Regions from separate parts of the Homo sapiens genome. Here region 2 is linked to region 1. The links come from fine-mapping of genetic effects on gene expression. Tissue or cell type: whole blood. Region 1 holds a variant in brackets; the other region holds the start of a gene. All regions are shown on one strand. Distances are from middle to middle.

The links. PIP is the estimated chance that this variant, and not a neighbour inherited with it, causes the effect.
Region 2: it holds the start of MINCR, and the variant in region 1 is fine-mapped to the expression of MINCR in whole blood (INTERVAL, PIP above 0.99).

What each region holds. Positions count from the first base shown.
Region 1 is chr8:143,243,851-143,248,993 of GRCh38, forward strand. It overlaps ZFP41 (ZFP41 zinc finger protein), which reads left to right and starts at 3,089. Exons shown (of 3, transcript NM_173832.6): 1 at 3,089-3,292. RefSeq lists silencers at 2,184-2,343, 2,544-3,433, 3,474-3,523. The variant A/G (reference allele first, on the strand shown) is at 1,992.
Region 2 is chr8:143,279,300-143,284,442 of GRCh38, forward strand. MINCR (MYC-induced long non-coding RNA) reads right to left here and starts at 2,401. Exons shown (of 3, transcript NR_120682.1): 1 at 2,183-2,401; 2 at 1,583-1,698; 3 at 856-1,216. RefSeq lists enhancers at 242-884, 2,181-2,330.

The sequences.
Region 1 (5,143 bases):
CCTCTGTGGGAAGCTCTGCAGGAAAGGGGTCCTCAGCCCTTGGAGCTTCTTTCCATATTTACAGGGTAGCTGGAGCGGGGGGGTCTGGTGACAATGGGAGATTCCGGGCCAGGGAAACAGCCTCTGCCCACATATCACATACCAATGGTGTTGGCACCAAATGGAGTCTCTGGTGGGCCGGCCCAGCCACCACCACGCCTGAAGGGACTGGAGGGGCCACCTGGCTCATTTAGAAGGCAAGGGGCTGTCTCTTTTGAGATAGGGGAAGGACACCTTTCTCCTTCTTCTGCTTTTGTTTTTTGTTTGTTTGCTTTTGTTTTTTTTTTTGAGATGGAGTCTCGCTTTGTCACCCAAGCTGAAGTGCAGTGGCATGATTTCAGCATCACTGCAACCTCTGCCTCCCAGGTTTAAGCAATTCTTTTGCCTCAGCCTCCCAGGTAGCCAGAACTACAGGCACGTACCACCACACCCGGCTAATTTTTGTATTTTTAGTAGAGACAGGTTTTCACCATGTTGGCCAGGCTGGTCTCGAAGTCCTGACCTCAAGCAATCCACCCACCTTGACCTCCCAAAGTGCTGGGGTTACAGGCATGAGCCACTGCGCCCACCCTGCCATTCTTATTCTCAGTCTTATTCTCTCTGTCCCAGCCCCATCAGTCATCAATTGCTCAATAAATATGGATTAGGCACCTGCTATGGGCTATGTGTTGGCCCCCGATAATACAAAGATGAAAAAGACAAGCCCTGACCGAGGGTCATGTGCAGCATGTAACCTGTATGGACAGCTACCCACGCAGCCTTGGCCTAAGGCTGGCAGGGGCGAGGCCGGGGCTGGCACAGAGGAGCTCGAACAGGTGGAGTCTTAAAAAGCAGGAAAGGGTCTGTCAGGCGGAGGCGGAGCGGGGGTGTTCAAGGCCCAGGGTTGAGGCATGCAGCCGATGCTGTGTGGCAGGGCAAGCACTTGCTGCTGAGTCTCCTGGAAGGGGAAAGGGTGGTGAGAGGGGCGGCCTGCAAGTCTGTGCAGGCCCCTTTGCAGCTGCTAAGGGGGCCCAGACCTCATCCTGCAGGACAGGCGTGAAGCTGGGAGGGCCACTGTGGGTTTGCCCGGTAAGTCAGTCCCTCCAGCTGCTGTAGGAGGGGTGGACAGGGGAGCCCAAATGAAGGCAGGGAGACCCCAGGGCAGGGCACAGAAGTAATGCTGGTGAGAGGAGATGGGGTTGCAGCCGGGACAGAGGAAGCAGGCTGGACAAGAGTGGGTGGTTTAAAACATTGGGAGGTAAAAGCAACAGGATGGGAGAGGGGGGTGGGACGAGGAGGGAGCAGAACTGCCTGGTTTTCAACACCTTGCTAAGTCCAGGAGGCAGTTGGAGAGAGGGCTGGGTGGGGGCAGGCAGTTCCTAGGGTGCCACGACACCAGCAGCACCTAAGATCTCCACTCATGCTCACTCAGTCCACACGACACGAGGGCCCAGCACACATCAGGCACCCAGAACAAGAACAGGTGGCTGCCCTCCAAGAGCTGATTTGCATGGGAGTGTGGGAGCGGGGGATAATTAATAATAAATATAATAAGGAAATCATATAGAAAGTGGAAATGGGAAGTGTTGGGGGGGCAGAATGCTGCAGATATCCTAAGGAGATGTGCCAGAGCCAGCCCAATGCCCATCCTTCCCTTGGCTACAGGCGGCACTTGTGACTTGAATCTGAGTAGAACTGGGCCGAGGGGGTGGCATGTCACCCACAATTAGGTTCTGTTCCACAGGACTCCATCTGGGGGTGGGGCTCTCCCACGGACCCTGGGGAAGCGGCCACCCTGTGAACCGCCCACCCTCCCACAGTAGGGACTGGCAGGCAGCCCCCGGGAGCTGAGAGCAGCTCCTGCCGGCCCTCAGTCCTACAGGCACCAGGACATGACTTCTGCCAGCAATCGCATGAGGTGGGAAGTGATCCTTCCCCAGTCCAGCCCCCAGATGAGAACACAGCGGCTGACC[A/G]GAGCTGAGGACCCAGCTAAGCCTGGCCTTCTGGCCCACAGAAGCCTTGAGATAATAGGCGGATGTCGTTTTAGGACACCCAATTTGCGGTACGTAGGGAACTAACACGCGGGGCTCTGGCGGGCCTGGCGGCTCAGTGCGATCTGGGCAGGCAGGAAGTGGAGTGAGCACAGCCAGCGGCTGGGAGCACATCCCGGAGGGGCTGCCTGCGGCGGGAGGAGCGGCAGGGGCCACGTGGTGGGGGACGGCTCGCCAGGGCGCGCACGCGGTGGCGGCGGCGGTGGAGGCGTTGCCCGCCTAGCTAGGGGCCCGCGGCCTGGAGAGGCGTCGGTTCTCCTTCCGCGCTGAAGGCGGAGACAGCGACTTCCCGTGGAGGCAAGCCGTGGGCGCCGCGGAGGCGGGGGCTGGGGGTCGGCGGAGGCGGGAGCTGGGGGTCGGCGGGGGCTGGGGGTTGGCGGGGAGCGTCCTCAGGGACAAGTCTCCCAGCACGCGGCCGCGACCTCCCCGTTGGGGGTCTGGAGCCAGGAGCCCACGCGCGTCGGATCCGGAGAGTCTGGTGGGCGCAGCCTACGTGACAGGGTCGGCTCGGGACCGAGCTGCTGGGGACTGGGCCTTGCGGGGCGGGGCCGCTGGGGGCGGGGCATGAGGGTGCCGGTTCGGGGCGGGGCTTTTTGGGGGCGGGACATGGGGCGGAGCCTGGGGGCGGAGCATGTGGGGAGGTGGCTGGGGAGGAACTTTCGGGGGCGGGACACGAGGGCGGAGCCTGAGGGGGCGGGGCATGAGGGGAAGCCGGCTCGGGAAGGAGCTTTCGGAGGCGGGGCCCGCTCGGGGAGGGACCTGATTTCGGGGGAGCCTTCGGGAGGGCGCCTGCCATAGACGACTGTAAAGGGGCGGGGTCAGCTCGGGGAGGACCCTGCGGGCGTGGCGGCAGTTATGGGTGAAGCCTGAGGGGGCGGGGCCTGATCGGGGCGGGGTCTTCGGGGGCGGAGTCGGCTGGGGATGGAGCCGCTCGGGCCGAGCCCTCCACCGCCCACCATCACCGAGTCCGGCCCAGGCTCCTAGCGCGGCCGCCGGAAGGGGCGGGTCAGCGGGCGGGCATTTCCTGCCGGTGCCTAGGGCCGACGGGGACGCTGGCACTGGTGGGGAGCTGTTGGGGGGTCCCGCATCTAGGGCTCTCCTTTCCTGCCTCCGGCCCCCGCGAGGGGCGCGCGCCTCTCCCCGCCCTCCAGCAGTCCTGGTAGGGCCCGGGCGCGTCCGCGCTCTGCAGCGGGAGGTCCTCGTCGCCTCTCGTCTCCAGCCAGGTACTCACTGGGCTCCTGCCTGCCGCCTCCGGCCCAGGACGCGCAGCGTCGGTATGGGCCCCGCCGCCTCCCCGCACCCCGGCGCTCCAGGGATGTGGCAAGACCCGGCTTTGAGCACCTCCCGGGCGCCGGCCCCGAGGCCGACCTAGCTCTGCACGTGGGCCGCGGGGCTCTGCCGTTGAAAGGAGAGCCTCTAACTAGGAGCACGCACGGGACCCTGGCGGGCCCCTCCGCCTGGCTCAGATGCCTGGCATCTCAGGCCTTGGCACAGCTAGCAGGCCCCTGGCAGGCCGTGGACCCAGCAGGCTGTTTTAGTGCAGATTGCCCCTGAATCTCAAGCCCACTAATGTTCCAGTCTCTCCATGAGACCCAGATCCCTGAAAGTAGTGGAGGGAGGCGCCAGGGTGAGTGAGGTTTTCTAGGCAGCCCTTACCGCCCACGGATACCCAGAGCTTCATATTACAAGTGAAGGGTCCTCCGCCCAGAGAGGCGACGGAGCTACGCTGGAGTTGCACGACAGAACCAGAACCCCAGTCTTTAGGGGTGTGGCAAGCGTGGGTTGCGCTGTTTGTAACTAGCTAATCACTCCTGTCTACAGGCCTGTGAGGTGAGGCCAAGAAAATCGCTATGGTCCAATCCGTTTTTGTTTTTTGCGTGTGGGGTTTTTTGTTTTGGTTTGGTTTGGTTTTTTTGTTTGAGACGGAGTCTTGTTCTGTCGCCAGGCAGGAGTGCACTGGCGCGACCTTTGCTCACTGCAACTTCTATCTCCTGGGTTCAGGCAATTCCCCTCCCTCAGCCTCCTGAGTAGCTAGGACTACAGGCACGTGCCACCACGCCCAGCTAATTTTTTGTGTTTTGGTAGGGACAGGGTTTCACCATGTTGGCCAGGATGGTCTCGATCTCCTGACCTCGTGATCCGCCCACCTCGGCCTCCCAAAGTGCTGGGATTACAGGCATGAGCCACCGCGCCCGGCCAGTCCACTCTGCTTTTAAGAAATATTTTATTTCTCAGGGTGGGCAGCGTGTAGAGAAGTGAGTCATTCCAGTCTCTGCCGGTTAGCACCTGCCAGCCTAAGTTGAGTCGACAGAGCCGTTATGGAGAATGTTCCCTGACCACAGTATGTGACTAGGATTTGGAGATAAAAAAGATACGATCCTCGCCTTCAGGAGACCCTGTCGCATAAGGAGACTGCCATGTCAGTGACCAGCCACACGTGCAGTGACAAGTGTCTGGAAGAAGGAACAGTGCTGTACAGCATGGAGGACCCCCACACAGGCCTCGGGCAGCAGCCGTTAGGCTCAGTGGGTTCACAAACCACCCCCCGCCCCGCCGTGGAGTGGAGTCTGCAGAGAGCCAGATAGGTTCCCGCCATGCCCTGGAGAGCTGCCGTTTCTCCAGCTCCGCCCTGCCCATGAGGCAAACAGCTGGTCGACTGGTCTTCTGTGCTGGTTCTTGGTTCTCACCTTTGTTTCCTACCAGAGCTGGACCCCGGCCTCAAACTCCAGCCAGCTTGGGCTGTGATCCTCTATCCTGGGCACCAGGGCCCACCCCCTGCCCACCCCAGCAGAGATGCTGCTTTATGCCTGCATCCTCCCTCAGCACACGTGGCCTTCATCTTCAGTTCTGGCGCCCACCTGATCTGCCTCCTCCCACACGCCACCTCTAGATAGAGCCCTAGAAAGTGATGTTGGCCTGAAACTGAGTCACATTCATCTAAACATTTTCCTGTAGAAAAGACCAGACCCTCCTTGTTGAGATAGGAAATCTGTAGTGAGTTTATGTGTTACCTGCACTCATGAGGGAGAGGAGGGAAGGCCACCAACCTCCTCTCAACAAAGAGAATTCAAAGT
Region 2 (5,143 bases), 35 kb after region 1:
CGGGGCTGGCTCGGAGCCCCGTCCCACCCCTGCCGGCTCTGCCCCATCCCCCGCCACCAGAGGAACCTGGACGCAGACCACCTGGAGCATCTCCAGCTCAACGGCCAATCTCCAACCCACACCACCTCCAAGCCCACACCACCACCCCTCTCCCTCCTCCGACCCAGGACCCCGATTCTCAGCCTTCGCCCTCTCTCTCCTCCCCGAAGTGACCAGGGATCTTCCTAAAGATCCCATGGTATCTGGGAGCCAAGGTTTGGGATCTGCCAGCCCTGATTCCATAACCCACACTTATCCTTCCTCACGGAGCCTGTTTCTGCCTCTGACAATGGTGGTTAGCGCAGCCCGCTCCGCACCGCACATGGCGGCTGCAAGGACGGCATGGGTGGGGTTCTTTGCACAGTGCCAGGTACATAGCAAATCCCCACAAAAAGAGCTCCTGGAAGGGCTCTGTCAACAGCGTGAGTGGACAGTCTCAGCAGAGGACCACCTGAGGCTTGGGTTGGTCACAGCAAATGTGAGAGACCAGGAAAAGGGGTGCATGTGAGTTCTGGAACCCAGAAAGTGATCATCTGTATCTGGCACAGTATCTGCTTTTGAGCCCAGAAGGAAATAAAGGCCCTGGAGGGGCGCTGAACCCTAAAGCACTGGAGCTGCAGGGAGAGGTCTTCTGAGGCAGCTTCTGGCAGCCCCAGACAAGGGGAGGGCCAAGTGCTGACCTAACCATGGCCTTGGGGGCAGGTGTGCAGGCCTATGGATTAGCAAATAAGGACCGAAACATGCTTATGGATTAGCAATTAAGGACCAAAACATGCCTATGGATTAGCAATTAAGGACCAAAATGAGCTTAAGTTTGGACCCTTTTCAGTTCACAAGCGTTTTTATTTTTACATACATATATGTAGCATGGTGTATTGGCTAAGAAAATCGACCTTGGAATTTCAAGCCCAACTCTACAGTTAACTGTGAGGTTGGATGAGTTATTAATGTCTCTGAATCTATTTCCTGATTAGTAAATGATGTATTATGGTTCTCCAGAGAAACAGAACCAATGATGTGGGGTGGGGGAGGACAAGAGAAAGAGGGTTATTATCAGGAATGCACTCACAGGGTTATGGGGGCTGGGCAGTCCCAAGACCTGCAGCTGTCAAGCAGAAGAGCTGATTGAAAGCCAGTAGACTTGAGACCCACAAAGAGCTGATGTCTCCATTCAAGTCTGAAGGCAAGAAAAGACGTAGGTCCCGGTTCAGTCAGGCAGGAGGTGGTTCCTATGCGGGCCTTGAACTAATTGAATGAGGCCCACCCACATTATGAAGGGCACTCTGCTTCACTCAGTTCACAAATTCAAATGTTAATTTTATCCAAAAACACCCCCACAGACACACTCAGCACACACAGTGTCACTACTTACTCTCAGATTGCTCTCCAGACTGGGGGAACCAATTGACAAGGCCCCCAGCTCCCCCAGCTATGAGACTACATTCCCCATAACTTTTCAGCATGTTCACTTGATTCTCCAACCTTAACAGACTTGTGATATTACTTTAATGGCAAACAAGGCTCTGCTGTCCCACGCGCTTACTTTGCCACATGGCACAGTATCTGTGTCACAGACGCACTCTTCCCAAGGACAGGTCCAGGCCTGTGTCAGTCACTGCTTCATCCCAGCACCTAGCACAGGGCCTGACTCATGGTGAGCTGTGGACAAACGCACATGCAATTAACGACTTGTTCCTGCCTCAGGGTTCTCTTTTCCAGATGAGTAGAACAATTCACATTTTTTCACTCCTTACTTCAGACTGGGAGAAAGGGCCTGAGCAGAAGGATCAGAGTTCAAAGGAGGGGACACAGCGCCACAGAGGCAATGCCTGGAGCAACAAAGATTGGGGTTTGGGCATGTACTGGAGTGAGAGTGGAAAGGGCATGGAAGTCAGGGTCCAGTCAGAAGACAGAGGCCTCGTCAGTTATTTCAACAGAGAGGATTTCGCATCATGAATCACTATGTACGAAGTGACTACCGAAGGAGCTGAAAAGAGAACTCTATCTCAGAAGCAAAAACTGCAGGGAGCACCTGCTACGCTAGGGCTGTGGAAACAAAGGGAAGCGTTTGGAATTACTGGGGTCAGAAAGCCTGGGAACTAAACCCCTAAGGAGAGGGCTTCGCAGGTCTCTGGTCCCTGACCTGGCCCCGAGGGTGGGGACAGATCCCCGAGGCGAGGCGTCGATGGCTGCGGTCTGAGGTCTCTAGCGGGGGGCCGATGAAGCTCTTCTGCGAAGTTGGGAACCCGCGCACCAGTTTTAGCAGCCGCGGAAGGAAGTGCTCTTGCCGGGGCGAAGCAGCAGAGTTCGGAAGACACGCGACCAGGGCACCAAACAGACCGGAAGCCTGAGGAAAAAACCGGAAGCAAACCGGAAAGAGTGTGCCCCTCTCTCCTCCGCAGCCTCGCGCGCTTTCTCTGGCGCCCCTAGTGGGAAAGCCTAGCATGGCACCAGCTGGCCAAGCAGAAAAAGGTTTGCGGAGACCGGGCCAGCCGCAGAGGTGGAGCTGAGGGTCAAAACCTCCTCCCTGGAGCAGGAGGGCAGAGAGGCCTTCCTTGTACGTTCGAGCGGATTCATAAGATAAATGGTGAAGGACTCAGATGGCTGAGATGAGATTTTGTAGAAAAACCTCGCCGAGTGCCAAGTGCAGCTAGGGCTTCAGGAGTCCAGCCTGGTTTGTAAGCCTCGAGGAGCCCACGCGTGGCCGCAGGTGCAAATGGTCTCAGAGCAGCCATGCACGGGAGAATTCCTCCCAGGGAGAAACGCCGTGAATGTGACTTCTAGGGACACGCACAGCCGGTGGAAACCGTATGCATGTAGTGTGCATAGGTGAGATGTAATGGAACACTGGAGAAGCACCTTGTGAACGTGGGAAGGGTTTCGCGCATGCTCAGGCTCCGTTCGGGATCAGAACATTCCCGCAGGAGAGAAGCCAATGAGCAGCACTGGACGTGGCCACACCTTCGTGGAAGCGCTGGTCCTCAGGCATCAGAGTGGACATAGAGAGGCCCTGCAAATGTAATGACTGTGGGAACGCCCGCCTCCTGAGTTCATGCTGCCGTGAGGGAGCGGACTGTGGGTGCGGGCATGCGGAAAGGTCTCAGATAATCCCCACTGGAGAGGAACACTGTGGATGTCATCCACGCAGCAGAATCGGATAAATTGCACCAAGGGACCCCACCCCCACCCCCTGTGCAGTGACCACCGCAAAACCTTTAAGCAAAGATCTCATGCCCCGAAATGCCAGGGCCGTCACCAGGGATGCAGCAGGGAGTGAAACACCCATCTCTTTTCTCACACCAAACCGTAGCCAAGGGATTCACCACGAGGTGAGCCGGTGCGAGAGGGAGGACTCTGCAGGCGGAGACTGCCCTCGGGGTTGTGGCCTCAGAACGGGGTCCTGCTCCCTGGAGACATGGACCCTGTTTCTTACAGTAGCTTTTGTGCATCATGGGCAGGCAGTGCCAGTTGACACCAATCAAGTCTCAACACTCAGCCTGCACACGTGCAGATCCTCTGGAAAAACGCAGCCCCTCCCATCCTCAGATCCTAAGAGAGGTAGGGGCCTTGCCCATTAGCTGACTCCAAGACAACCTGGCTGGGACTAGAAGGTGAGAGCCAACCCCTGCGGCTGCTACAAGCCCCACAGGAGGCCCGGGGAGGGTTTCCTGGCAGTGTCTTCCGAGTCGCCGCAAGTTTCTGCCCAGTTTTCACAGCCTGCTCTTCCCTGGGTTCCGGCTGGGTCTCTTCCTCAGGTATGGCTCCACGCCTCCCCTGCCCAGTTGATGCAGGTCTCGCTCTGATCACATCCAGTTCCTGTAGACCATTGGCCACTCACCAGGCCGCTTTGCCTTGCGTTTTCTAGGGTCTTGTTTCATGGGGTCATGGGAACCCACTCAGGGACCACCCAACTACCTGAGAGGCCCACTGGAAAACGCAGATTCCCAGGCCCCACCCCAAGGGATTCAGCAGGCCTCAGGGGAAGCCAGGAAATCTGGATTTAGTTCAAATACCCAAATACATTGATCATGGGCCTGGTTCGGGAATCTGTTCTCCTCCAAGCCCTCAAAGCAGGAGCTGCTGGCCTGCCCTCTGCAAGGCCGCTGCCCAGGCTCTCCTCAGACACCACCTGGACGGGCAGCTCGAGCCGTGGGACGCCCCTGCTTGGGCCAGAATCGGGTCCTGCACCTCAGACCTGCAGGGCCCAGCTCGGCCTCTGGGCCTCTGGCAGCCGCGCCCTGCCTGGCACCCCCTGCCTCCGTGACGCCCCATCTCTCTCTCTACAACGTAGCCCCGTGCTAGTTCACAGCCTCGCGACCCCTCCCAGAGAGGCCCCACAGCCATGGCCCCCAGCCGCGCGAGCAACGCCAGGCACTCGCCCGGCCCTGGCCCGCCACCCTTGGGTTCGCCTGGGGTCCCCCGCCAGTCTTCCGAACGGGTCCTCCGAGCTGCCTAGAGCGCCCGGAAATGCCCTCGGCATGGGGCGGGGCTTGCGGGGGCGGGGCCGCGCTGCCGACTCGGGCTGGGCTTGGCTCACTGGGCCTAGGCAGTGCCTCAAGCGTGGGATACCCTGGTCAAGTCTTTAAAGATCACAGGTTTTAAACAGATTTCTTTTTACCCAATAGCATTTATTCATACTCTTTAAAGAAATTTGGGAAGTGTAGGAAAAATAGAAGAGACAGAAATTTTCTCCTCAGCACTACGGGCTAAGTATCCCAAATCCAAACACCCCCAATTCAAAACTTTTGAGCAGCTGACATGCCGCACAAAAGGAAATACTCACTGGAACACTTCAGATTTCGGATGTGGGAATTTGGGAGGCTCACCTGCTAACTATGGTACAAATATTCCCCAAAAAAAGCCAAAGCTTTTTTTTTTGAGACAGAGTCTCGCTCTGTCGCCCAGGCTGGAGTGCAGTGGCACGATCTTGACTCACTGCAAGCTCCGCCTCCCGGGTTCACGCCATTCTACTGCCTCAGCCTCCAGAGTAGCTGGGACTACAGGCGCCCGCCACCGCGCCCAGCTAATTTTTTTTTTTTTTTTTTAGTAGACACGGGTCTTCACCGTGTTAGCCAGGATGGTCTCGATCCCCTGACCTCGTGAT